Homo sapiens: one gene and its partners. The gene in region 7 interacts genetically with the main gene of each other region. Each region holds a gene or a part of one and is shown on either strand. Other genes may lie near its edges.

Region 1 (3,500 bases), on a different chromosome or scaffold from region 7:
AAAAGGCAGCAGTAGGGTTTAAACCCCGGCATTTTGTCTTTATTGCCTCTAAACTTAACTTGCTTTAAAAGATGATAAAATGTCCCACAAAGGAGCCTAAATTCCTGAATGATACTGCATATCACTTGGATAGTTATCTATGCTGAGTTGTATAACTTTATGCTTGTCATTTAATTTTACAATTTGGTGGAAGCCAATGTGAAAGCAAGGAGACTTCTGTTGTGGAGTAGGTGTTTTAAACTGAATACCATATTCAGCCTTGGGGTGCTGAATATTTAGTTCACAGCTAGGATTAAGATACTCAACTATGTTAATAAAATACAGTAGATGAAGTCCTGCATTTTAATTGGGATTGATTCACTTAGAACTAAGGATCAAAGTTTAAACTTATTGCAGCGTTAGGGGCCATCTTTGTTGCTAGTTGAACAAGTCTTGGTCGTTTTTAACATGGCTCCTTAGGGTATTTTCTGAAGTTCTGTCTACTTCATTGGAAAGTGTTTGCACTACGCAGGAGTGACAGCAATATGAAATGCTTTGTATTCAAGGCAGCAGAGGTAATCTGGACAGACAGTACATGTGCTTTAAAAGCAAGATACAGTCATAGAAAATATGTAGATAATTTAGCCGGGCATGGTGGCTCGCGCCTCTAATTTGGGAGGCCGAGGCAGGTGGATCACGAGGTCAGGAGTTCGAGACCAGCCTGACCAATATGGTGAAACCCCATCTCTACTAAAAGTGCAAAAAAAAATTAGCCTGGCATGGTGGCATGCACCTGTTATCCCAGCTACTCAGGAGGCTGAGGCAGGAGAATTGCTTGAACCCGGGAGGTGGAGGTTGCAGTGAGCCTAGATCATGCCATTGCACTCCAGCCCGGGCGACAGAGTGAGACTCTGTTTAAAAAGAAAAAAATAAGTATTTGTAAATGTATATATATATATATATACACACACACACACACATATATATATAAAATCATTATGCCATCAGTTTGAGGGAGAGCATGTATGCCAACATTGTAGAGACTAAGTGCCCATTTATCCATAATTAAGATAAGCAGACTTTTCCCCATTGTACTATAAAGTTAGAGTTTGGGGCTGGGTATGGTAGCTTCCGCCTGTAATCCCAGCAGTTTGGGAGGCTGGAGCGGGCGGATCACTTGAGGCCAGGAGTTCAAGACCAGCCTGGCCAACGAGGGGAAACCCCGTCTCTACTAAAAATGCAAAAATCAAGTCAGGCGTGGTGGTGCAGCCTGTAATCCCTCCCACGGAGGCTGAGGAATGAGAATCACTTGAACCTGGGAGGCAGAGGTTGCAGTGAGCTGAGATTGTGCCACTGCGCTCCAGCTTGGGCGACAGAGTGAGACTGTCTCAAAAACTAAGCAACCAAAAACAGAAAAAGATGGAATGGAATTAATATGTTCCATTTAGTAAAGATGGAATAGAATTGGTCCAGTTTGTGTTCATTGTAGCATATTCACCTATTTGGTCAGCAACCATTTTTTTTTTTTTAAAGCCTAAGCATACCCTGAGAACAACAACCTTTTTTGATTAGAACAGAAGAAAAAGCCAGAGTGTTCTTGGGCTGCCAAAATATTAATACGTTTGTCTCAAAGACGAGCCACTTAGGTGCTTGCTTAGAGACTTCTACTTTACACAGAATTTGAAAAGTTTGACAGCTGGCTACTTACTCTGCAAAACGGAAGGGAGACTTTTTAGAACAGCAACTGGTGATCTGGCAAAAATGAAAAGTAGAACTTGTGAAGAAATGAGATGGACTTGGTGTATTAATAGCTAATTTTAGAAGACCCTGTGGATATTCTAAATCAGCATAATAGTGATGTCTGAGCCATAGTGTTAAATTATGATTACTGTATTTGAAGTATAAGAAGGCAGAAAAGTGTGATGCTGTTAGAAAAAAATCTCATTTCAAATGATTGAAGGTTAAAAACAATTGGGGAAAGATTAGAGAGGGCAGGCGGTGCTTTAAGGGAGGTGGAATAATACTTGGCTCCTTATTCTCCAAAAGTGCTGGATAGCTGAAGTTTTTAATATTCTGGATAATTGATATTTGATTATTAGTTTAGGAGGGATAGCATCTTCAGTGAACCCTTGTAGCTCTAAGGTAGGCATATTAAACAACTACCATACTAAAGGTGGGGAGTACGTTTGGAGAGCACTTTGCTGGGCCAGCTGATGATATGCTTAGGTGATATTTAAGAAAATCTGCTTCTTGTCTGAAAAACATTTGGGGCTTCAGAATAATACCACATACCTCATTCTTGGTGTTTTAATTTATTTCTTTGTAATTGTTTTCTGTTTCTTAATAATTTTAAATTAAGGGTATTTTCCCAATATAAACATTGCTTTTTGGTTAAATAAAATCAAAACTAGTTCTGTCTCCATATCTGAATAGACCAGACAGAGAATTTTCTTGCCTTTCAACAGCTTAAAAAATGTTTTTGTTAGAACTGTTGTGTTCAGGCTGAAATACTTTCAAAGTTTGTTAGTTATTATTGAGAAATTTCTGTAATAATCATGGAAAGGGTAATTTAATAGTTAAATCTCAACTTAATTGAAGTTATTTCTGTTGTGGAACTTATGGTCATCTTAGCAAGAGGTCATTGCTTTATAGTCAGTTCTCTTTCTCATTAAAAATATAGTGTACTCACCTTTACAGGGTGAATGTTGGTAAATAACTTCTGTCTGTGAAGGAAGTATTCTGGACCTGTAAGTTAAAAATAAGGTGTTTATAGCAAATTATGTAAATAAAGATTGTATATTAGAAGGTACACACTATTCAAATTAAAGAAAATGTATATTGAGAAAATAACTCAAATTTCTTCCATGAAATTGGCAAGAAGTAAACATTTCAAATACACAAAACATTATGGGTATTTTTGTTCATTTGATTATAAAATGCCAAAGTTGTTTTATAAATGCTACTTCAAGCCTGGAAACTTTGAGGAAGTCCTGAACATTAAGCATATAAATGGCCCAGCTCTAGAATACATGTAAGTTGAAAAGCTAACCTGAAGTGGGAAGCGCAGTATATACCTAAGACTTACTCTGCACTGAAAGTTTGCTTTGTCACTAGAAGTAAAACAAGACTGTGGTAGGATAGTAAGATCAGTAACACCTCAGTTAATCAGGTATCTTGGAGGAAGTGAAGAAAGACCCTAATTCAAGGGACAGTTAATTGGCCTTTTATTCCAAGAATGGGCCTTAGTGGCAGTATCTTAAAAGCCCACAAGATGGAGATGTTTCCTAATGAAAGGCCTTTAATTTCTTTATAGAGCTGAGTTAGTGTCACATCCCAGTCCCCACCCATGACCCTTCCCCAGTTAAAAAGAAGAGAAAATGTTGAGCAAGTCTGATTTGATTCCCATGGTGACATTTTTAGCCATTATGTAACAAATTCTGACAGTTTACCCTTAAAATTAAAAACCTCCAGTCCTGTCTTTTTAAAGGGTAGAAAGAAGGTTAGGTATAGGATAGCTTTTT
Region 2 (3,500 bases), on a different chromosome or scaffold from region 7:
ATGAGAACCACTTGAACCCTGGAGGCACAGGGTTGCAGTGAGCCGATATCATGCCACTGCACTCCAACCTGGGTACAGAGTGAGACTCTGTCTCAAAAACATAAGAATAGTGTCAGGCACGGTGGCTCAAGCCTGTAACCCCAGCACTTTGGGAGGTCAAGGTGGGCGGATCACTTGAGCTCAGGAGTTTGAGACCAGCCTGGGCAACATGGCAAAACTACATCTCCACAAAAACAATATAAAAATTAGCAGGACTTGGTAGCTCACATCTGTAGTCCAGATTCTTGGGGGACTGAGGTAGGAGGATGACTTCAGTCCAGGAAATGGAGGTTACTGTAAGCTGAGATTGCACCACTGTAGTCTAGTCTGGGTGAAAGGGCCATACCTGTCTCAAAAAGAAAGAAAGAGAGAGAGACAGAGAAAGAAACAGAAGAGTACATTGTAACTGTTGTAAGGTTGGATATTATTTTGTGAAACTGTTTTGTTTTGTTTTGTTTTTTTGAGACAGAGTCTCCCTCTGTTGCCAGGCTGGAAGGCAGTGGCGTGATCTCGGCTCACTGCAACCTCCGACTCCCTGGTTCAAGCGATTCTCCTGCCTCAGCCTCCTGAGTAGCTGGGATTACAGGCACGCGCCACCGTGCCCAGCTAGTTTTTGTATTTTTAGTAGAGACGGGGATTCACCATGTTGGCCTTGATCTCCTGGCCTCGTGATCTGCCCCCCTTGGCCTCCCAAAGTACTACGATTACAGGCATGAGCCATTGCACCTGGCCTGTTTTGTTTTGTTTTTAAGAGACAGGATCTCTAGGCTGGACACAGTGGCTCATACTTGTAATCCACCACTTTGGGAGGTCAAGGTGGGAGGATCACCTGAGCCCCAGATTTCAAGACCAGCCTAGGCAACATAGGGAGACCACATTTCTACAAAAAAATTTTCAAATTAGCTGGTTATGGTGGTACTTGCCTGTGGTTTCCCAGTTACTTGGGAGGCTGAGGTAGGAGGATTGCTTGAGCCCGGGAGGTCGAGGGTGCAGTGAGCCATAATTGCACCACTGCTGTACTCCAGCCTGGGTGAAAGATGAGACCTTGTCTCAATTTTTAAAGAAGGCTTAAACTGCTTAATCTGATTATAAATGATAAATGTCTAGTATGTTATTCTCTATTCATGAAATATAGCAAAGATAAGCTTTTTGGCCTTTTGAAGCATTTATGTTTTAAATGACAAATATGTTACTGTAAACTGGGATTATCAGCTGGCCAGGTATCATTTACTGCAGTTCAGAGTCTCCCAACCTCCATATTTCTAGAACTGAATTTAGACTGAAGGATGTGCCTCTTAAACTGCTCTGCCCTTTTGGTTTCTTGCTGGCAATTGTCTGCTGATATTTTATAAAGCTAAAAATTTTCTACTCAATTTGTTCCTTATTTTACATTTTTATCTCAGCCTAGGTATAAACTAGATGAATTTGATTGCAATTATTTTCATTGTTACTGCTCTTCATTTGCCTATTTTCATCAGAAAAAAACAGTGTATTTTCTGGTGAGATTGGCATGAATTTCTCAGATAAAGGAATATTTGGGGATGGTGTCCCTTTGGGAATATGATTGCTTTCTTGCATGGTGATTTGCTTCCACTTCCCAGGTGTTGAGAATAATAGGCAGTCAGAAGGTCTGCATGCCAAAGGCAGAAGACATTTGGGAATTTTTTCATCATGAACTTTAAGTTGAAGGAGTTAATGATTGGCTGGATTACAATATAAAAAGTGGATGTCTTTACAGTAAAGTAAGTAGAGCTTGAAATACAAAGAATGGAAACTCCTACATGAAAATGTTTTTAGGGGAAAAACATATTTTCTCTTTATGGTTTATTCTGCTCTAGGAAAACACCACCAAGCAAGTGAAACACATAATGTGATTGCATCAGACAAAGCAGCAGAAAAATCAGTTGTCCATGAACATGAGCACAGCCACGACCACACACAGCTGCATGCCTATATTGGTGTTTCCCTCGTTCTGGGCTTCGTTTTCATGTTGCTGGTGGACCAGATTGGTAACTCCCATGTGCATTCTACTGACGGTGAGTGGCTCCAAGGCTTTCTGGGCAGTGCAATACATTTGCAGTTGAGAAAGTTACAAACGATCAAATATTTCAGTCTGTATCAGTGGCCATATTTAGTGCTAAAACTCTTGTCTTCCTTGGGTTCTAGTGAACATTTAACTAAGTGGGGAGAGCTAGTGAGTTGTGGCATGTGGCGCAAAGAAGTGTTTATTGGTTTATTACTTTGCTTGTCTTAAAGTTGTCACATTTGGTTGAGAGTCTAGGGCAGAAGTTCTTAACTTAGTTTTTTGCTGTGGAGCCCTTAGGCAGTCTAAAGACTGTGGACCTTTTATTGGAATATTGTTTTTAAATGTATAAAACATAGTACATAAGATCAAAGAGAAAACCACCTTTGTTGAAATACAGTTACTAAAACATCAGAACAAATTTGTGATATAGTAATGTATGTCTTTATCAGTGCATTAAATAATGAGATAATACATTTAAATCCTAAACAAGTTAGAGTTGAATTTTATTTTCTAGGACATTAGTATGCTAGCTATTACATAATAATATGCTTGGCTTAAGAACATTAAATTATGAGGTAGTCTGTAACAAGGCAACATGTATGTCAAGTTAAACATCTAGTTGATTTTGGGTTTTTGTTTTGATGGTTATTGGTGTAGAAAATCTTGATTTACAAAGGTATTTTCTTACAAATGTACCTAAACACATTTGTAGCTTGCTTTTTAAGGAATCATAAGCTTCTCTAAAGGACAACTAGAATTCCCCAAGACTTTTCAAATTTGACTCCAGTCATAGTAACTGTTTTGTTTTAAGATCAATGAATTTATCTTTGGCTAGGTCAACATTTTTCATACGATTTATATTAATAAAAAAGGATTCTGATACATGATACACTTCGATCCTGTGGTGATAGAAATAAATTTGAGAGTTATAAAACTTCTCCAGGGATTGATGTGTAGACATATTTTTTCAGATATGTCAGCAGGGAATTTTGCAGATAGGAAATATTGGAAAGCAGCATAAGTATCTTGGTCCCCAATGGGAGAGCCTTGTGACTATCACTGTTTGGTGGCTGAGTGACTGTTAGATGCAGAGCTACTTGATAGTTGCCCAGCTCCATCACATGAGCATCTGCAGACAGGAAAGCTGTAATCATGCAGTATGGCAGCAGTTCTATAAGTCCTTAATTTAAAGTAGTGATGAGTGAAAGCGATAATTTAAAGATAATCTACAACTGTAAAATAACCTGATTAGTCTGATTTCTACTGGCAGTAAAGATAGTGCTGATATTACTTGTGGTTTATTGTCTGCATTCATAATTAAAGGAAATGAGGGGGCAGTCACCATGACTCACCTGTAATCCTAGCACTTTGGGAGGCCAAGATGGGCGGATCCTTTTGAGTTCAGGAGTTTGAGACCAGCCTGGGCAACATGGCA
Region 3 (3,500 bases), on a different chromosome or scaffold from region 7:
AAATCTCTGTAAAAATGGTCCCGTGATGGGGGCTGGGCACGGTGGCTCATGCCTGTAATCCCAGCACTTTGGGAGGCCGAGATGGGTGGATCATGAGGTCAGGAGATCAAGACCATCCTGGCTAACATGGTGAAATCCCATCTCTACTAAAAATACAAAAAATTAGCCAGGCATGGTGGTGGACGCCTGTAGTCCCAGCTACTTGGGAGGCTGAGGCAGGAGAATGGAAGGAACCAGGGAGGTGGAGCTTGCAGTGAGCAGAGATCACGCCACTGCATTCCAGGCTGGGCGAAAGAGCAAGACTCCATCTCAAAAAAAAAAAAGTCCCGTGATTTACTATATCTGCTTATAGACATATATGATATAACTATTTCTTTTTATATAAAAATGCTAACATCAAAATTGCTCTTCATTCATTCAAACTGATATTAACTGTTTTTTTTACATGCCATCTATTGTGCTTAATACTGGAGGAATAAAGATAAAATACAATTCCTGTGAAGGAAAATATTTTAGATGTAACACATCATGATCAAAATGCTATGGGAACACAGAGGAAGAACACTAAACTTGGCTGATAGAATGTCAGTAACTTGCCAGGGAGAGAGAGGCTTTCTAGAGAAGATAAAGCTTAAACTGAATAAGCTAGGTGCAGAAGAGAAGAAATTAGGTAACTCATACTATCTTCTCTCCTTTGAACTTACCTGTTGCTAGGTAAATGGGGTGATTCTGGGCAGGGCTCCATGCCTGCATGGCTGTACGATCTACTTCCTTTAACTTCATCCTGCTAAAGGGAATATTTTATACAGAAACAGCCTTGAATGACTTGAATGTCTAACACAGAACACAGATATTTTAAATAGAAACATACTGAACAAACCACTACAACATTAGTAATGCCCAACTGCAAATAAATCAAATCGGTTTAGGTGTCATTTGTTGGATATATTCATTAGAAAGAAGACAAACTTGAGGCCGGGTGGCTCATGCCTGTAATCCCAGCACTTTGGGAGGCCAAGGCGGGCGGATCACGAGGTCAGGAGATTGAGACCATCCTGGCTAACATGGTGAGACCCCATCTCTACTAAAAATACAAAAAATTAGCCGGGCGTGGTGGCGGGCACCTGTAGTCCCAGCTACTCAGGAGGCTGAGGCAGGAGAATGGCATGACCCGGAAGACAGAGCTTGCAGTGAGTTGAGATTGCACCACTGCATGCCAACCTGGGCGAGAGAGCAAGACTCTATCTCAAAAAAAAAAAAAAAAAAAAAAAAAAAAAAAGACAAACTTGATAAACCATTTTGAGACAAATACTGGGCTATTCTGTTTACAGATTATAGTTCTTCAGTTGAATCAGTCTAGAAAAATAGCCCACAAAAATAATAAGGTAGTACCTGAAGAATTAACTTTGCTACACATGTGTTTATCCAACTAGGATGGATGACAAAACATTACGGGTAAGAGCAGCCAAAAAATAAATAAGGTGCAACTTCCTGGAGTAGGATTACTCAATGATAAGAGCAGTTTAAAAAATTAATTCAAAGTTACAACATATTAGAGAGAATATAGTAAGCCCACAGATTTTAAAGATAAAGTAGAAATTATTAGAAAACTGGTCACTTCAAGGTATAATCCCATATACCACTTGTTTACGTATTTTCTGTCATTAAAGTTACTTTGATGGAGTCAGGCATGGTGGCTCATGCTTGCAATCGCAGCACTTTGGGAGGACGAGGCAGTTGGATCACTTGAGGCCAGGAGTTCGAGACCAGCCTCGCCAACATGGCAAAACCCCGTCTCTATTAAAAATACAAGAAAATTAGCCAGGTGTGGTGGTGCATGCCTGTAATCCCAGCTATTTGGGAGGCTGAAGCAGAAGAATCACTTGAACCCAGGTGGTGAAGGTTACATTGAGCCGAGATCATGCCACTGCACTCCAGCCTGGGCAACAGAGCGAGACTCGGTCTCAAAAAAAAAGTTACTTTGATGGAAAAATTACAACGGTATAGTATTATGTACTTTTTAAAGATCTTTGTTATTTTTACATAAATATATTGAAATGGCATAGTACTGCACTATAAGATGTACCATAATTACCTAGTCTAATACCAACAAACACCTAAGCTGTTTTTAGCTATTTTTACAAAAAAGTGCTGAAATAAATGGTCATCTGCACGTTATTTCATTAAAAAGGGACAGCTATAAATTTCCAGAAGTAAAATTGCTAAGTTAAAAGGTTAATGCAATTTTAATTTTGATGAATATTACCAAGTTGTCCTCTATGGCAATTGTGCCTTTTCATACCACCAACAGTAATATACGATTACTTATTGCCCTACAGCCTTATCAGAGCATACTGTCACACTTTTAGATCATACCAACACTAAAAAATGAAAGGCCAGGTGCAGTGGCTCAGGCCTGTAAGCCCAGCACTTTAGGAGCCGAAGCAAGTGGATTGCTTGAGCCCAGGAGTTCAAGATCAGCTTGGACAACATGGTGAAATCCCATCTCTAGAAAAAATACAAAAATTAGCTGGGCATGGTGGTGCACGCCTGTAGTCCCAGCTACTCGGGAGGTTGAGGAGGAAGGATTGTTTGAGCCCGGGAAGTTGAGGCTGCAGTGAGCCGTGATTGCGCCACTGCAATCCAGCCTGGGCGACAGAGTGAGACCATGACTCAAAAAAAAAAAAGAGAAAAATAAAAATGTTAGCTCTGTATAGTAATACTATAAATGATGTATAACATCTTTTTTTTGTATGACTATGGGTAAACATATTTCCTTTTCTGTCATCTCTTCTGTCTAGTCATGTATTATTTGACCATTTTTCTTTTCTATTCTTTTTTTTTTTTTTTTGGAGATGGAGTTTCGTTCTGTCACCCAGGCTGGAGCACAGTGGGGCGATCTCGGCTCACTGCAACGTCTGCCTCCGGGTTCAAGCGATTCTGGTGTCTCAGCCTCCCAAGTAACTGGGATTACAGGCACACACCACCACATCAGGCTAATTTTTTTGTATTTTTAGTAGAGACGGGGTTTCACCATGTTGGCCAGGCTGGCCTCGAACTCCTGACCTCAGGTGATCCACCTTCCTCAGCCTCCCAAAGTGCTGGGATTACAGGGGTGAGCCACTGCGCCCGGCCATCATTCGACAATTTTTCTATTAAGTTGATAGACTATCTTTTGACTTTGCTTTTTTCAAAAAAAAAATTTCTTTTCACCTTTCATAGGATTTTGATTAAAAATAAAAAAAGCTATATGCTTTATCTTTTAGAGTTTTACGTTCCTAGAAAAGTTGAGCCACAAAGTACAAAAAATTGCTACACATTTCCCAACCACATAACCTTTCTCACCACCAACATCGCACATCATAAAGGTCTATTTGTTTCGATCCATAAACTAACATGAACACATCATTATCACTGAAACTCCACAATTTATATGAGGGCTCACTCTAGGTGTTGTATATTCTATGGGTTTTGACAAATGTATAACAACATGTATCTGT
Region 4 (3,500 bases), on a different chromosome or scaffold from region 7:
TTAAAGGAGAGGGCAGACATTCAAACCTGCCCTTAAAGCAAACACCAAACACCTGCCCACTTCTTTTTTTTTTTTTTTTTTTTTTTGAGATGGAGTCTTGACCTCTCACCCAGGCTGGAGTGCAATGGTACGATCTTGCTCACTGTAACCTCCGCCTCCTGGGTTCAAGTGATTCTCCTGCTTCAGCCTCCCTAGTACCTGGGATTACAGGTGTGTACCACCACGCCCATCTAGTTTTGTATTTTTAGTAGAGACGGATTTCACCATGTTGGCCAGGCTGATCTCAAACTCCTGACCTCATGATCTGCCTGCCTCAGCCTCCCAGTGCTGGGACTACAGGCATGAGCCACTGTGCCCAGCCTTGCCCACTTCTTTTTTTTTGTTTGTTTTTGAGACAGAGTTTTGCTCTTGTTGCCCAGGCTAGAGTGCAATGGCACAATCTCAGCTCACCACAACCTCCGCCTCCCGAGTTAAAGAGATTCTCCTGCCTCAGCTTCCCAAGTAGCAGGGATTACAGGCATGTGCCACCACGGCCGGCTAATTTTTTGTATTTTTATTAGAGATGGGGTTTCTCCATGTTGGTCAGGCTGGTCTCGAACTCCCAACCTCAGGTGATCCACCCGCCTCGGCCTCCCAAAGTGCTGGGATTACAGGTGTAAGCCACCATGCCTGGCCCTCGCCCACTTCTTTTAACACACACTTCCCTTCCTTTCTTCACACACTTTGGATGTCGTGAACCTATGATTCAAACTTAAATCCATCTGATCCCACAGCTTGAGCCATATCTTTGGTCCATCCCCCAGAAAGTTGCTCACAGACAAATGGGAGAGCAAACAGGTCAATAGGATCAATGTTACAGTACGGATGATGGGAAGCAAGTCACAAACTCAGTTTCCAGAAGTTAAGACTCTCCAAATCTCCATTTCTGGTGAAGGGTTTAATGGGACAATGAGGGCGCGGCCCTGACTAGCCACAGTCCGGCTGACTGGCTTCTGCCGTGTGTGTATCTGATGGCAGGACAGAACGACCGTGCTTCTGCAGTTGTGTGTGGTGAGGCAGCACCGACCCCAGACCAGTACTTAGCAAGGATCAGTGGAAGCAAATTTGACTCTGCCTGTGGATACTGTTCTGTATGTCTGCACAAGGCTCGTTCCTGAGTGAAGGTGGCTTAAAAAAGTGGTGGCAGCAGCTGTTCAGACCAGTGGTATGAGCAGCCCTCACATGTGTATTCCACAGATGGGGTCTTTAACATTCCCTGGTCCTGTGCCTGCAGTACTTGGATATCCTCTGCTCACCTTGAGGCTGGTCTTTCTTTCTTTCTCTCTCTCTCTCTCTCTCTCTCTCTTTCTTTCTTTCTTTCTTTCTGTTTCTTTCTTTCTTTCTGTCTTTCCTTCTTTCTTTCTTTCTTTCTTTCTTTTTCTTTCTTTCTTTCTTTTTCTGTCTTTCTTTCTGTCTTTCTGTCTTTCTTTCTGTCTTTCTTTCTTTCTTTCTTGACGAAGTCTTGCCTTGTCGCCCAGGCTGGAGTGCAGTGGTACGATCTCGGCTCACTGCAAGCTCCCGGGTTCATGCCATTCTCCTGCCTCAGCCTCTCGAGTAGCTGGGACTACAGGCTCCTGCCACCACGCTTGGCTAATTTTTTGTACTTTTAGTAGAGGCAGAGTTTCACCATGTTAACCAGGATGGTCTCCATCTCCTGACCTCGTGATCCGCCTACCTTGGCCTCCTTTTTTTTTTTTCTTTTGAAATGGAGTCTTGCTCTGTTTCCCAGGCTGGAGTGCAGTGATGCCATCTTGGCTCACTGCAACCTCCGTCTCCTGGGTTCAAGTGATTCTCCTGCCTCAGCCTCCCGAGTAGCTGGGACTACAGGCGTACGCCACCATGCCCAGCTAATTTTTATATTTTTAGTAGAGACGGGGTTTCGCCATGTTGGCCAGGATGGTCTTGATCTCTTGACTTTGTGGTCTGCCTGCCTTGGCCTCTGAAAGTGCTGGGATTACAGGTGTGAGCCACTGTGCCTGGGCAATTTTTGATTTTTTTGTAGAGACGGGGTCTCCCTATGTTGCCGAGGCTTAATAAACTTATTCTTTCAGAATACTTTTAGAAAAGTTACGCAGATAGTACAGAGTTTTCTCACAATCCCTCACACATAGTTTTCCCTGTTATTAACATCTTATGTTAGTACGTATTTTACATTAAAGTCCATCCTTTATTCAGATTTCCTTAGATTTTTACCTGATGTCCTTTTGCTGTTCCAGGATCCCATGTTACCTATATTCATTGTCTCTTTAGGCTCCTCTTGCTGTGCCAGTTTCTCAGACTTTTATTGTTTTTGATGACCTTGACAGTTTTGAGGAGTGCTGGGCAAGCATCTAAAGAGGATCTCGGCCAGGCGCGGTGACTCACGCCTGTAATCCCAGCACTTTGGGAGGCCGAGGTGGGTGGATCACTTGAAGTCAGGAGTTCGAGACCAGCCTGGCTAACATGGTGAAGCCTCATCTCTATTAAAAATACAAAAATTAGCCAGGCATGGTGGTACGCACCTGTAATCTCAGCTACTCAGGAGGCTGAGGCACAAGAATCGCTTGAACCAGGAGGCAGAGGTTGCAGTGAGCCAACATCGTGTCACTGTGCTCCAGCCTGGGCTGGAGACAGAATGAGACTCCGTCTCAAAAAAAATAATAAAAAATAAAGAGAATCTCTTCTCAACTGGGATTTGTCCAGTATTTTTCTCTTTTTAACAGAGTCTTGCTCTGTCAGCCAGGCTGGAGTGCAGTGGTGCAATCTCGGCTCAAGCCATTCTCCTCAGCCTCCCAAGTAGCTGGGACTACAGAAATGCACCACCACGCCTGGCTAATTTTTGTAGAGACAAGGTTTCACCATGATGTCCAGGCTGGTCTCAAACTCCTGAGCTCAAGCGATCTGCTCACCTCAGCTTCCCAAAGTGGTGGGATTACATGCGTGAGCTAACACGCCTGGCTGTGTCCAGTGTTTTTTTCATAAGTAGACTGTGCCAAGTTTTGGGAAGGAGGACCAGAGAGGTAAAGTGCTATTTTCATCACATCATGTCAAGGGTACATACAATCCACAAGCCTTTCCATGACTGATGTCAACCATGATCACTTGGCTGAGGTGATGTGTGTGAGGCTTCTCTGTAAAGTTGTTCTCCCCTTCCCCTTTCCATGCTGCATGCACCCTTTGGAAGAAAGTCACTGTGTAGCCCACACCTAAGGAACAGGGACTTATGTTCATGTTCCCCTTGTTGAGGGCGGAGTAGCTACATGAGTTACTAAATTATTTTTTCTTTTTCTGTTTTTTTTGAGATGGAGTCTCACTCCATCGCCCAGGCTGGAGTGCAGTGGCGCAATCTCGGCTCACTGCAAGCTCCGCCTCCCGGGTTCACGCCTTTCTCCTGCCTCAGTCTCCCGAGTAGCTGGGACTACAGGCCTATAGGCGCGCGCCACCACACCCGGCTAATTTTTTTGTATTTTTTTTAGTAGAGA
Region 5 (3,500 bases), on a different chromosome or scaffold from region 7:
GCAGGAGGATCACTTGAGCTCAGAAGTTTGAGACCAGCCTGGCCAACATATTGAGTCCCCATCTCTACAAAAAATACAAAAATAGCTGAGTGTGGTGGTGCACACCTGTAGTCCCAGCTACTCCAGAGGCTGAGGCAGGAGGATGGGCTTGAGCCCAGAAGATCGAGGCTGCAGTAAGCCATCATCGTCCCATTGCACTCCCGCCAGGGTGACAGAGCCAGACTATGTCTCATAAAATAATAATACTAATAAAATAATAGAAATAACTTAAACCATGGGTGAAAAATTGAATTGTTCTGGGAAAAATCAAGATGTATAGTTATCAAAGTGATAAGATAATGTGCTTTTTAAACTTTACTAGATAATACCAAGTGGTTTCTCAACATGGATGTTCAAAGGTATACCTCTTTCAGCTCTGTTGCTTATTTTTCTAATGGATCATTTAGTGTGCTTTTATTAATTTGTAGGGATTCTTTATGTATTCTTCGTGTTAATCCTTTCTCAGTTACATTTGTTTGTTTCACTTTTTTTAGGTTTTTAATGATAGAACTTTCCATTTTAATATAGCAGATGTATCCATTTTCCCTTTATGGTTTGTACTGATTATGCCTAGTTTAAGAGGCTTTGCCTACTCTGAAAATATATTCTCTTATATTTTCTTCTGAAAGTTTTGAAGTTTTGCCTTTCACAGTTAATTTTTGATCCCCCACCCCCGCCCCGCCCGAGACGGAGTCTTTCTCTGTCACCCAGGCTGGAATGTCGTGCCTCAATCTTGGCTCACTACAACCTCTGCCTCCTGGGTTCAAGCGATTCTCCTGCCTCAGCCTCCCGAGTAGCAGAGTAGCTGGGATTACAGGTGCCCGCCACCACACCTGGCTAATTTTTGTATTTTTAGTAGAGACGGGGTTTTACCATGTCGGCCAGGCTCATCTTGAACTCCTGACCTCGTGATACGCCCGCCCCGGCCTCCGAAAGTGCTGGGATTACAGGCGTGAGCCACCGCACCCGGCCTTCACAGTTAAGTTTTTAACGTCCCTGAGATTGATACTGTGTCTGTGGTGAGACAAGATTCCAAGTTTATTTTTTCCCAGCTGCATGATTTGTCTACACATCACTCAAGGAAAATCGTCTCTTCCTTTGATGTGTGCTACATATTCCCTTGTGATAGTTCAGTCTTGTTTTTTTTTTTTTTTTTTTTTTTTTTTTTTTTTTTTTTTTTGAGATGAAGTTTCGCTGCTGTTGCCCAGGCTGGAGCACAGTGGTGCGATCTCGGCTCACTGCAACCTCCGCCTCCTGGGTTCAAGTGATTTTCCTGCCTCAGTATCCCAAGTAGCTGGGATTACAGGCGCCCTCCACCACACCTGGCTAATTTTTGTATATTTAGTAGAGACAGTGTTTCACCATGTTGACCAGGCTGGTCTTGAACTTCTGACCTCAGGTGATCCACCCTCCTCGGCCTCCCAAATTGCTAGGATTACAGGCCTGAACCACCGTGCCTGGCCCAATATTTCAGTCTTTATACCATAGATTTTTGATGTATTCTACATAAATAATCATACACGAAGAATGAAGGTTTGTATTTTTTTCTTTTCAGTTTTTATTGTAGCTTTTAGTTATTTTTCTTGCCTTAATCCTGCCCGAGGACTCCAGTATTAGGCAGCATAAAAATGTTGAAGAGGACATCTTTATCTTTTTTCTACTTTTAAAGAGAATGCTTTAAACGTTTCACTGTTAATTTGAGGTTTCCTTTAGGTTTTTGGTAGATACCTTTGATTGCATTAAGGAAGTTACTTTCTGTTGCTAGTTTGCTGACAGGTTTTATCTTGAGCAGATGCTGAATTTTATTAGATACTTTCTTGTGCATCTATTGAGATAGTCATGTACTTTTATTTAATCTATCGCATTAAACCAACAGTACATTTCTGGGATTACCTGAGTTTGGTAGAAAATAAATACATTGCTGATTCAGTTAGCTAATATTTCAAGATTTTTGCATGTGTGTTCATGAGTGAGATGATAGCTTCCCTTTTAGTATGGCCTTGTCAAATTTTGGTCTCAAGGTTATATTAGCCTTATAAAGTGAATTGGGTCATGTGTCTTTTTTCTTCTCTGCAAGAATTTTTGTACTGTAGGAATTATCTGTACGGAATCTTTGGTAGAATTCACTGGTAAACCCTCTGGACCCTATATTTTCTTTGTAGGAAGACTTAACTACTGGTTATACTTTTTTTATGGTTATAGAACTATCTCGTCATATATACATGGTTATTACTAGTGTCTGCTTTGCATTTGAACCTTACATTGGAATAAGATTAGAGTAAGGAAACCCTTGAAGTGAAGAAGCTATTTTGCTACAAATTATATGTCCATTCTCACAAAATCTTATGTATATAATTTATATAGATGTAGCTTTATAATATATGTATGTCTTCCCATTCATAAAAGCATCATCTAAATCACGTTTTATATCATTTTTATTTGAGCATTCCTCTTGATTTTCTAGAGAAGAAACCCTCAGATCCTTACTTACAAGCATTTTCCTGCATCTAGATTTTATTTGTGTGAAAGCAAAAGTGATCATCCTTGCCCTAAATTATTAGGGCTTTTTATTACTTTGGTATTTACTTAAGAATAAAATTTATTTTTTTATTTTCTTCTCTTCTCAAAAGTGGTTTGCAGGTATTAATGAAAATTTTGGACATTCCCATTTTATCAGTTCTCCTTAATTTACAATTTATAAAGTTTTTAAGCTTTATAATTTAGAAGCATTTTACCTTAATTTTTATTATTTTGGTGGTTTTTCTAGGCGATGTTTTTTGTTATTATATCTCTGATAAACAGATTTCCCTAAATCTTACAGGTTTAAAGCAGCTTCATCTTCACAATAGTAAGAATTGTTTCTTTAAAAAGTTTCTTCACAAAGGCAATAAAACTTTTAAAATCTGTGAGATTGAATCAGAATTAGCTTTAGAACCTAGAATTTTGTTAGGGCTGAGGGTAGATGAGACGGAGGGAAGATCCCTTTCTCTCATCATTAGCTTATATCGAAATCAATTCTTATTTCTAAAATAAAATACGCAGACCACGCTAGTGCCTTCAAGTCCTGCTGGGAGACTTCAGAGGGGGCACTGCCTCATGCTGCCTGTTTGCTCCTTGTGCCCGGCCTCTATCCCTGCACAGGAAGGACCCGAAGGAGCAGCCTTACCATGCACAGGGGGCTCCCCCTTTGGGGTTCTAGGGCAATTTGTTCTTCGGGCTCCCGGTGAAACATGGCAGGAAAAAAAACGTTTTACTCCTTTTCATTGGATTTTTTATTCATTTATACTTAACAATTATTGGATGAATGTATAAGGGAATTAGTAGCTGACCAGGCTGAACCGGAAACTTCTTCAAAATGTATAACTTGGATTATGTACTTTAAAATAATGTTTTGGGAAGGCTGACTCATTGGGAATACTATGATGGAAGTGTTGACAGTGAGAAAAGGGTAGTCTTATCTA
Region 6 (3,500 bases), on a different chromosome or scaffold from region 7:
CACGAGGTCAGGAGTTTGAGGCCAGCCTGGCCAACATAGTGAAACCCTGTCTCTACTAAAACTACAAAAATTAGCCGGGTGTGGTGGCACACACCTGTACTCCCAGCTACTTGAGAGGCTGAGGTGGAAGAATCACTTAAACCTGGAAGGCGGAGGTTGCAGTGAGCCGAGATCACGCCAACGCACTCCAGTGACAAAGTGAGACTCTGTCTCAAAAAGAAAAAAAAAGAAGCCAAGTAGAGAACTGGCAAGGAAGATTTGATTTTGAAGCACTTCCATCTTTAAGACAACGTTAAAAAAAAAAACTAAACTAAAATATTTGATGGTTAAAAACTGTCTAACATCCCTCATTTTAACTTAATTTGATTAAAGGGGGAAATTTTTATTTTTTATTTTTTTGAGACAGAATCTCACTCTGTCACCCAGGCTGGAGTGCAGTGGCCAATCTTGGCTCACGGCAACCTCTTTTTCCCAGATTCAAGCGATTCTCTTGTCTCAGCCTCCTCAGTAGCTTGGGACTACAAGCGCACACCACCACGCCTAGCTAATTTGGTGTTTTTAGTAGAGGCAGGGTTTCACCACATTGGCCAGGCCGGTCTAGAACTGACCTCAAGTGATCTGCCTGCCTCGGCCTCCCAAACTGCTATTACAGGCGTGAGACACCTCGCCCAGCCAAAAGCGGGAAATTTTTTAATGCAAAATTTCAGGCTGGACATGGTGGCCCACCCAGTGCTTTGGAAGGATCGCTTGAGGCCAGGAGTTTGAGACCAGCCTGCACAACATAGGAGGCACAGTCGCTACAAAAAAATTTTTAATGTGAAATTTCAGTTGTTATCTTCATTTTATTTTACTTTATTTTGAGACAGAGTCTTGCTCTGTCGCCCAGGCTGGAGTGCAGTGGCGCAATCTCAGCTCACTGCAATGCCCACCTCCAGGGTTCAAGAGATTCTCCCGCCTCAGCTTCCCAAGCAGCTGGGACTACACGCAGGCACGACCACACCCAATTAATTTTTCTATGCTTAGTAGAGACAGGGTTTTGCCATGTTGGCCAGGCTGGTCTCAAACTCCTGACCTCAGGTGATCTACCGCCTGGGCCTCCCAAAGTGCTGTGATTATAGGCATGAGCCACTGTGCCAGGCCTCAGTTCTTATCTTTAAATGATCCTACAAGATTATCTCATCATCTCATTCACACAAAATTCTCAATATATATATTTTAAAGGTTTTATACAACTACTGAATACTTAAATTACCGGAAGAATTACAGATGGTGATATTCTATAGACATTTAAAAAATCATATTCTGGACAATGAGAATACTAGTTATCTTTCTTCTTTAAACTTTTCTGAGTTTTTCAAACCACCACCAAAAGTCACAAAGACAACCTGCTTTCACTTTCAAACACTTAAGTTTTGTTAAAAATTATTTGAAACACAATGCAAGCAAAAAAAAAAAAAAAGGTCAAATGTTTCTTGAGTATAACATGAAAGAAGAGCAAAGTCTGAAAGACTGATAACATTTTCAGAGATTCTGGAGCCATGATATACTTAAGGGGATGGGGGCTAAAAATAAGGTAAATACTTTAAACTTTTTCTGCATTAAAGAATTATAGTTGATCTAAGTAGACTACTATATTTCTTCCTACTATAGTTAGCTGGTATACTGAAGACAGGTAGACATGCTTTATTCTTAACACATTCCTTAAAGATGAACCAATCAAAATTATTTTCTTGACACTAAAAAAATCCACTGGAAGCCAGTGGATTATGAAAAATGTTATGAGAATAATCACGAGAATAATGTTAAGTATTTCTTTCTTTTTTTTTTTTTTTTTTTGAGGAGTCTCACTCTGTCCCTCAGGCTGGAGTGCAGTGGCATGATCTGGACTCACTGCAGCCTCCGCCTCCCAGGTTCAAGTGACTCTCCTGCCTCAGGTTCCTGAGTAGCTGGAATTACAGGCGTGCACCACCACACCCAGCTAATTTTTGTATTTTTAGTAGAGGCAGTGTCTCATCATGTTGGCCAGGCTGGTCATGACCTCAAATGATCCGCCCACCTCGGCCTCCCAAAGTGCTGAGATTACAGGCGTGAGCCACTGCGCCTGGCCATGTTAAGCATTTCTTAATGTGCTGAAATAATCACTGCCTGCTTCAAAACGTAGCTCAAAAAAAATCCACATTTTTCTTCAGATCCTCAAAAAAAAGCTTTAACCCTTTCTATCTACTTTTTTAACTGTTCAGATTACACTTTCAATTGCCTTTTTTTTTTTTTTTTTTTTTTTTTTGAGACAAGTCTTGCTCTGTTGCCCAGGCTGGAGTGCAATGGTGTGATCTCGGCTCACTGCAACCTCCACCTCCGAGGTTCAAGAGATTGTCCTGCCTCAGCCTCCCGAGTAGCTGGGATTACAGGCGCCAGCCAACACACCCAGATAATTTTCTGTATTAGTAGAGATAGGGTTTTGCCATATTGGCCAGGCTGGTCTTGAACTCCTGACCTTAGGTGATCCACCTGCTTCAGCCTGATCAACATTAGAGATGGCTGGGTACTCTATACAAAAATTAGCTGGTTATGGTGGCAAATGCCTGTAATCCCAGCTACTCAGGAGACCAAGGCAGGAAAATCGCTTGAACCCAGGAGGCAGAGATTGCAGTGAGCCAAGATCGCGCCACTGCACTCCAGCCTGGGTGACAGAGTGAGACTCCATCTCGAAAAAAAGAAAAAGAAAAGAAAACAAAAACAAAAAAAAACACAAACAGCCAGGCACAGTGGCTCACGCCTGTAATCCCAACACTTTGGGAGGCCAAGGCCCGGGCGACAGAGCAAGATTCCGTCTCAAAAAAAAAACAAAACAAACAAAAAAAGTAATACAGCTACCAACTCTTATGTAAACCAATATAAATCTAAAAATTCTGTTGCTTCAGAATCTTTTTTCTCAAGATCCCATTTTCACTACCAAATTTAGCAGAACCCATTAACAAAGATTATAAATTTCTAAAAGAAACAATATAAATTGGTAATGATAAACCAAAGTAACTTAAGGAACATCTGGAGTACATTTGTAAACATTAGCTAATATACCATTGTTAGTTATTAAGATAACATACTGGAAGCAGGAAAAGCATCCACCCATTAAAGTTTTAATTGAAGAGAAAGCAAGACTTTGGAGTTTGGAACAAGATGTTAAAAACGAATGAGCTTGTATTTGCGTGATAAAACACTAAAGAACTTTTCTTTCTTTCCTTTATTTTCCAAATTTTCTCTAATTACTTTTATAAAGATAACAAGCTTCATTAAAACAAAAAGAAACTGCTTAAGTCAGATTACTAAAAATCTGATTGCTCACTGCCCTTGTGACCTCCCCTAATAAAATATCCCTCACTTCCTCTCACCCTAAGTAATTTTCACTAACACTTTTGCAAAGGTTTTCTCAAATTCCTGTATTATTTTACTAAACAGTCTAGAATACAAATATAGTAGGCCAGATACCCATGTATTTGATC
Region 7 (3,500 bases):
TTGTGGCTATTATGCTTAAGTAAAATAGCTAAAGAAAAAAAAGAAAAAAAAAACAGAAAAGATGACAATATCATAAAAATGTAGCTGTCTATTTTGGCAGCTATATTGCAGAATTTCTTGACTATCTTTTAATCAGCTGGGAAAAAGTCAATAACTGTATGCAAATGAATAAACTGTCCATATCAAAATACAAAAGTACTATCAATAATCACCTCTGACTTTCAGATTTAAATTCAGTGCAATTGACAAATGCATCACTAAAGGAAAATGCAGCTTAAAAGATACTCAAAACATTTGTGTCTATTCCTGGGAGCACATTTTAAAATTATTGCACAGATTTTTTTAATTTTTATTTATTTTTTTTAAACAATAACAGAGGTCAACCACAGATGTGGACCTCCAGCAATAAAAGCAGGAATTCAAGTGCCAGATACTCAGCATATTAGGTTTCCTACGTAAGTCACAGGGTAATATGTTCTAAATATCTCTAATGTGATCCAAAACCCTAAAAAGAGCTGGCACAAAACCATCGTGAATGACTGCCTCTCTTGATGTAAATTTTTAAAAATATTATTACAGTATCATAGTCCCCACTAACAACAACTGGGGTACATATAACAATGTATTGTGAAATTAAGTGTATTTATTCTCTTTACCAATAGCAAATGCTACCCTACCTTAGTAAAACCAAGACTTGCTTCAATCAATGCTGTTTTGTAAAAATAGCAAAGCAACGAATGCTGAAATCAATCAAAGCTGCATTACTTGGGTTAAATCAGTTTCTACTTAGAACACAGGTTAAAATTTTAGTACTAAAAGGCCTCAAAATAATTAGTGACAGAAATAGTGTTATTAATTTGCTAAGCTCAACAATAAGCAATTCCTTAATTAAAATCTTCGAGATATAAATTTGATGACTATTCTCTTCAGAAATGACATACCTGGATTATGTTAATCATGACAAGCCTTATTAGTCACACATATAAACATGGCCTCATGCAATCATTTGTCTGTATATGTTACTCTAAGTTGCATGAGCACAAGGTTTAATATCTATATCTTTAAGAAAATACTTGATATTATAAACAGAGTAAAAGACATGATATAGTAGTGATTACTAAAAAAAAAAAAATTAGCAGCTTAAATCTATCTATATTTGAAAAAACGTAGTCACAAGTACCACAAATGCAGAATCAGAGCAGCAGGAAGAAGGTTAGTGCAATTATACTTTCATTAAAAAAAATTCTGAATCACTGCTATTTAAAAACACCTTGAAGCAAGTCTTTTGTTTGAGATTGTTTTTTAAACTAAGGTAGCAAACATTTTGCCATGTAATGGCAGTGTTATATGCCGTTATCTTGCTTTGTATAAAGAAAACAACATGAGAGATTTTTAATACTGGAGTTTGGTTACATTACATATTTAAGCTTCTACACAGAATGATGGACACTTCGAGAAGCTAATCCTTATCCAGAAACATTTTAATCTCTTAAAAAACAAAGCAAAACAAACAAACAACAAAAAACCCAAAACTACGTTGCTCCTTTTCACAATAGTGCACATTTTTACCATAATTTAGTTATGGCTACAAAACATCAGAAGATTTTTTTTAATGTATCTTCTCTATGGTAATTAAAAAAAAAGTTGTGCCCTTCTAGTCTTTAATTGGCAGAAATATGTCCCAAAAAAGAAACTATTGCATTTAAGCCACATCACCAAAAAACAAAAAAGAAAAAAAAAAAAAAAAAGCAAAACAAAAAAACAAAACCAACAGAGCATAATACCCTTTTACTGATGTGTCTTACAGATTGACATGACCAAAGTCATAGGTTTTCATTTAATTTCCAATTCCCCCTTCCACAACATGCACCAACTGAATATATGCTCTGGGAGCCATAAAATGTACCAAACATCTACCTCTTCAAAAGAATGCATTAAAATATTTTAAAGAATTTTTTGTTTAAAAGGTGAAAAAAATATAAACAAGAAACTGATTCACTCCCTTACTTCATGCATCCATAATCTAAACCAAAAACGAAATTTTAAAGCAAGAACAAACTACTGCTGCAAGTTTTTGTAAGTCCATTTTCTCTGTACATACAAACTGCTCACTACTGAAGGGAAAAAAAGAATATAATCCATGGTGTCTGCTGATTCAAAGGGGAGAAACAAGGCTGTCATTTAGTATCCAAAAACTGGTACATGTATGTTCTGCTTTTATAATGTATATTTTTCTCTCTTCTGTTTTTCATATCCAAAACTTCTAAATGCTATTTTAGGGGCACAGCAGATTAGATTCCAGCACTTGGTGAACAGAATTCACAAGCTGTGACAAAACTCTGTCATCTTCAGGGTGCAATTTTGTTTATATACACTGTATGTATATATTTCTTTTAGATTTGGCTGTAGTGGACTGGCCATGGTTCAAGTGGGACTATAGCAGTACATGGGTCAGGGACAGTCATTTTGGCTATGTACACATTCATAGTCGGTCCATGGCTTCCAACTAGTAGCGCTATTTCCGAAGGTCTAATACACAAACCTGTAAGAAATTAAAATAATCAACCAGTGTATTCAGAATTTTATTGTACATTTTATGTTTAACTTTTCTATAGTACAATTTGAAATGTTTCTTAGTTCCAAGTTTATAAAATTGGTAAAGCATAATAATCATGGAAATGAGCACTTAACTGACAGAAATCAGACAGATCATTTAAGCAGATCAAGAGAACAACCATGAGCTCAAACTGTGGGGGAAGAACCACGGCTAGGATTTTTATACTCTCTGTTGATTAAAAAGGAGGGGGAAAATGCTCAAAACAGACCATTTCCTATCTATTGGACCCTAATGAAAGATATCACAGATTATATTCAGCTACAGCATCAGTAAATAGCTACCCTTTTCCCACCTTCTGGTGCTTCTACAGCTTTGGAAGCCATATTTGCATTGTTGTAAAGAGTTGGCTAACCTCATCCTGAAAATCTTTCAGTATCACACATTCCTCAACACAGGAACCAACTGCCTCTAGTTCTGCCTTCCCTGGGCCAAAAAAATTCTTCTGTGAAGAGGAGAAGGTAGAAATACACATTAAACATTTCAATCCTTCTCAGAATGTTCCTCTGGTATACCTAATTTCATAAATGAAGGTTCATATTAAAAATAACTGTCCATTTCTAGATTATAAGGTATTTGGTAAGGACAGCCTAAATTTTGTTTACATTATTTGAATCCAACGCACATGAAAAGTTTACAGCCTCAGGAAAAAAAAAAATCAGTATCATACCTTAAAATTTATTTTGAAAAAAACACTTTGGTATCACTAACAATAAGCTGCATTCTGATGTGAATACCCACCCACACCCTCTTTGGAAACACTTTACTATACTTACTGAACCATCTGATGCACTGGCTCCAACTTTGTCTCCTGCTGCATTCCAGCAAACTTCAAATATTCCACCTGTTCCCCTATAGCTGTGAACTAGAGCACCTGTCTAAAAGA

What was found.
Region 1: changes in TBL1XR1 (region 7) and HNRNPD together harm fitness less than expected from each alone (positive genetic interaction), as found in Homo sapiens cells (one large-scale study listed by BioGRID).
Region 2: changes in TBL1XR1 (region 7) and SLC39A9 together harm fitness more than expected from each alone (negative genetic interaction), as found in Homo sapiens cells (one large-scale study listed by BioGRID).
Region 3: changes in TBL1XR1 (region 7) and SEC31A together harm fitness more than expected from each alone (negative genetic interaction), as found in Homo sapiens cells (one large-scale study listed by BioGRID).
Region 4: changes in TBL1XR1 (region 7) and RAB5C together harm fitness more than expected from each alone (negative genetic interaction), as found in Homo sapiens cells (one large-scale study listed by BioGRID).
Region 5: changes in TBL1XR1 (region 7) and TRAPPC12 together harm fitness more than expected from each alone (negative genetic interaction), as found in Homo sapiens cells (one large-scale study listed by BioGRID).
Region 6: changes in TBL1XR1 (region 7) and RAB1A together harm fitness more than expected from each alone (negative genetic interaction), as found in Homo sapiens cells (one large-scale study listed by BioGRID).

What each region holds. Positions count from the first base shown.
Region 1 is NC_000004.12:82,360,492-82,363,991, reverse strand, and holds part of HNRNPD (heterogeneous nuclear ribonucleoprotein D0), read left to right. Parts: intron 1-3,500. UniProt on the Homo sapiens protein: Binds with high affinity to RNA molecules that contain AU-rich elements (AREs) found within the 3'-UTR of many proto-oncogenes and cytokine mRNAs.
Region 2 is NC_000014.9:69,440,192-69,443,691, forward strand, and holds part of SLC39A9 (zinc transporter ZIP9), read left to right. Parts: intron 1-1,640; exon of another isoform or gene 1,641-1,781; intron 1,782-1,877; coding exon 1,878-2,075; intron 2,076-3,500. UniProt on the Homo sapiens protein: Transports zinc ions across cell and organelle membranes into the cytoplasm and regulates intracellular zinc homeostasis. Participates in the zinc ions efflux out of the secretory compartments.
Region 3 is NC_000004.12:82,881,154-82,884,653, forward strand, and holds part of SEC31A (protein transport protein Sec31A), read right to left. Parts: intron 788-3,500; 5' UTR 784-787; coding exon 705-783; intron 1-704. UniProt on the Homo sapiens protein: Component of the coat protein complex II (COPII) which promotes the formation of transport vesicles from the endoplasmic reticulum (ER).
Region 4 is NC_000017.11:42,144,990-42,148,489, reverse strand, and holds part of RAB5C (ras-related protein Rab-5C), read left to right. Parts: intron 1-3,500. UniProt on the Homo sapiens protein: The small GTPases Rab are key regulators of intracellular membrane trafficking, from the formation of transport vesicles to their fusion with membranes.
Region 5 is NC_000002.12:3,382,694-3,386,193, forward strand, and holds part of TRAPPC12 (trafficking protein particle complex subunit 12), read left to right. Parts: intron 1-3,500. UniProt on the Homo sapiens protein: Component of the TRAPP complex, which is involved in endoplasmic reticulum to Golgi apparatus trafficking at a very early stage.
Region 6 is NC_000002.12:65,123,607-65,127,106, forward strand, and holds part of RAB1A (ras-related protein Rab-1A), read right to left. Parts: intron 1-3,500. UniProt on the Homo sapiens protein: The small GTPases Rab are key regulators of intracellular membrane trafficking, from the formation of transport vesicles to their fusion with membranes.
Region 7 is NC_000003.12:177,022,983-177,026,482, forward strand, and holds part of TBL1XR1 (F-box-like/WD repeat-containing protein TBL1XR1), read right to left. Parts: intron 3,493-3,500; coding exon 3,391-3,492; intron 2,543-3,390; coding exon 2,516-2,542; 3' UTR 1-2,515. UniProt on the Homo sapiens protein: F-box-like protein involved in the recruitment of the ubiquitin/19S proteasome complex to nuclear receptor-regulated transcription units. Plays an essential role in transcription activation mediated by nuclear receptors.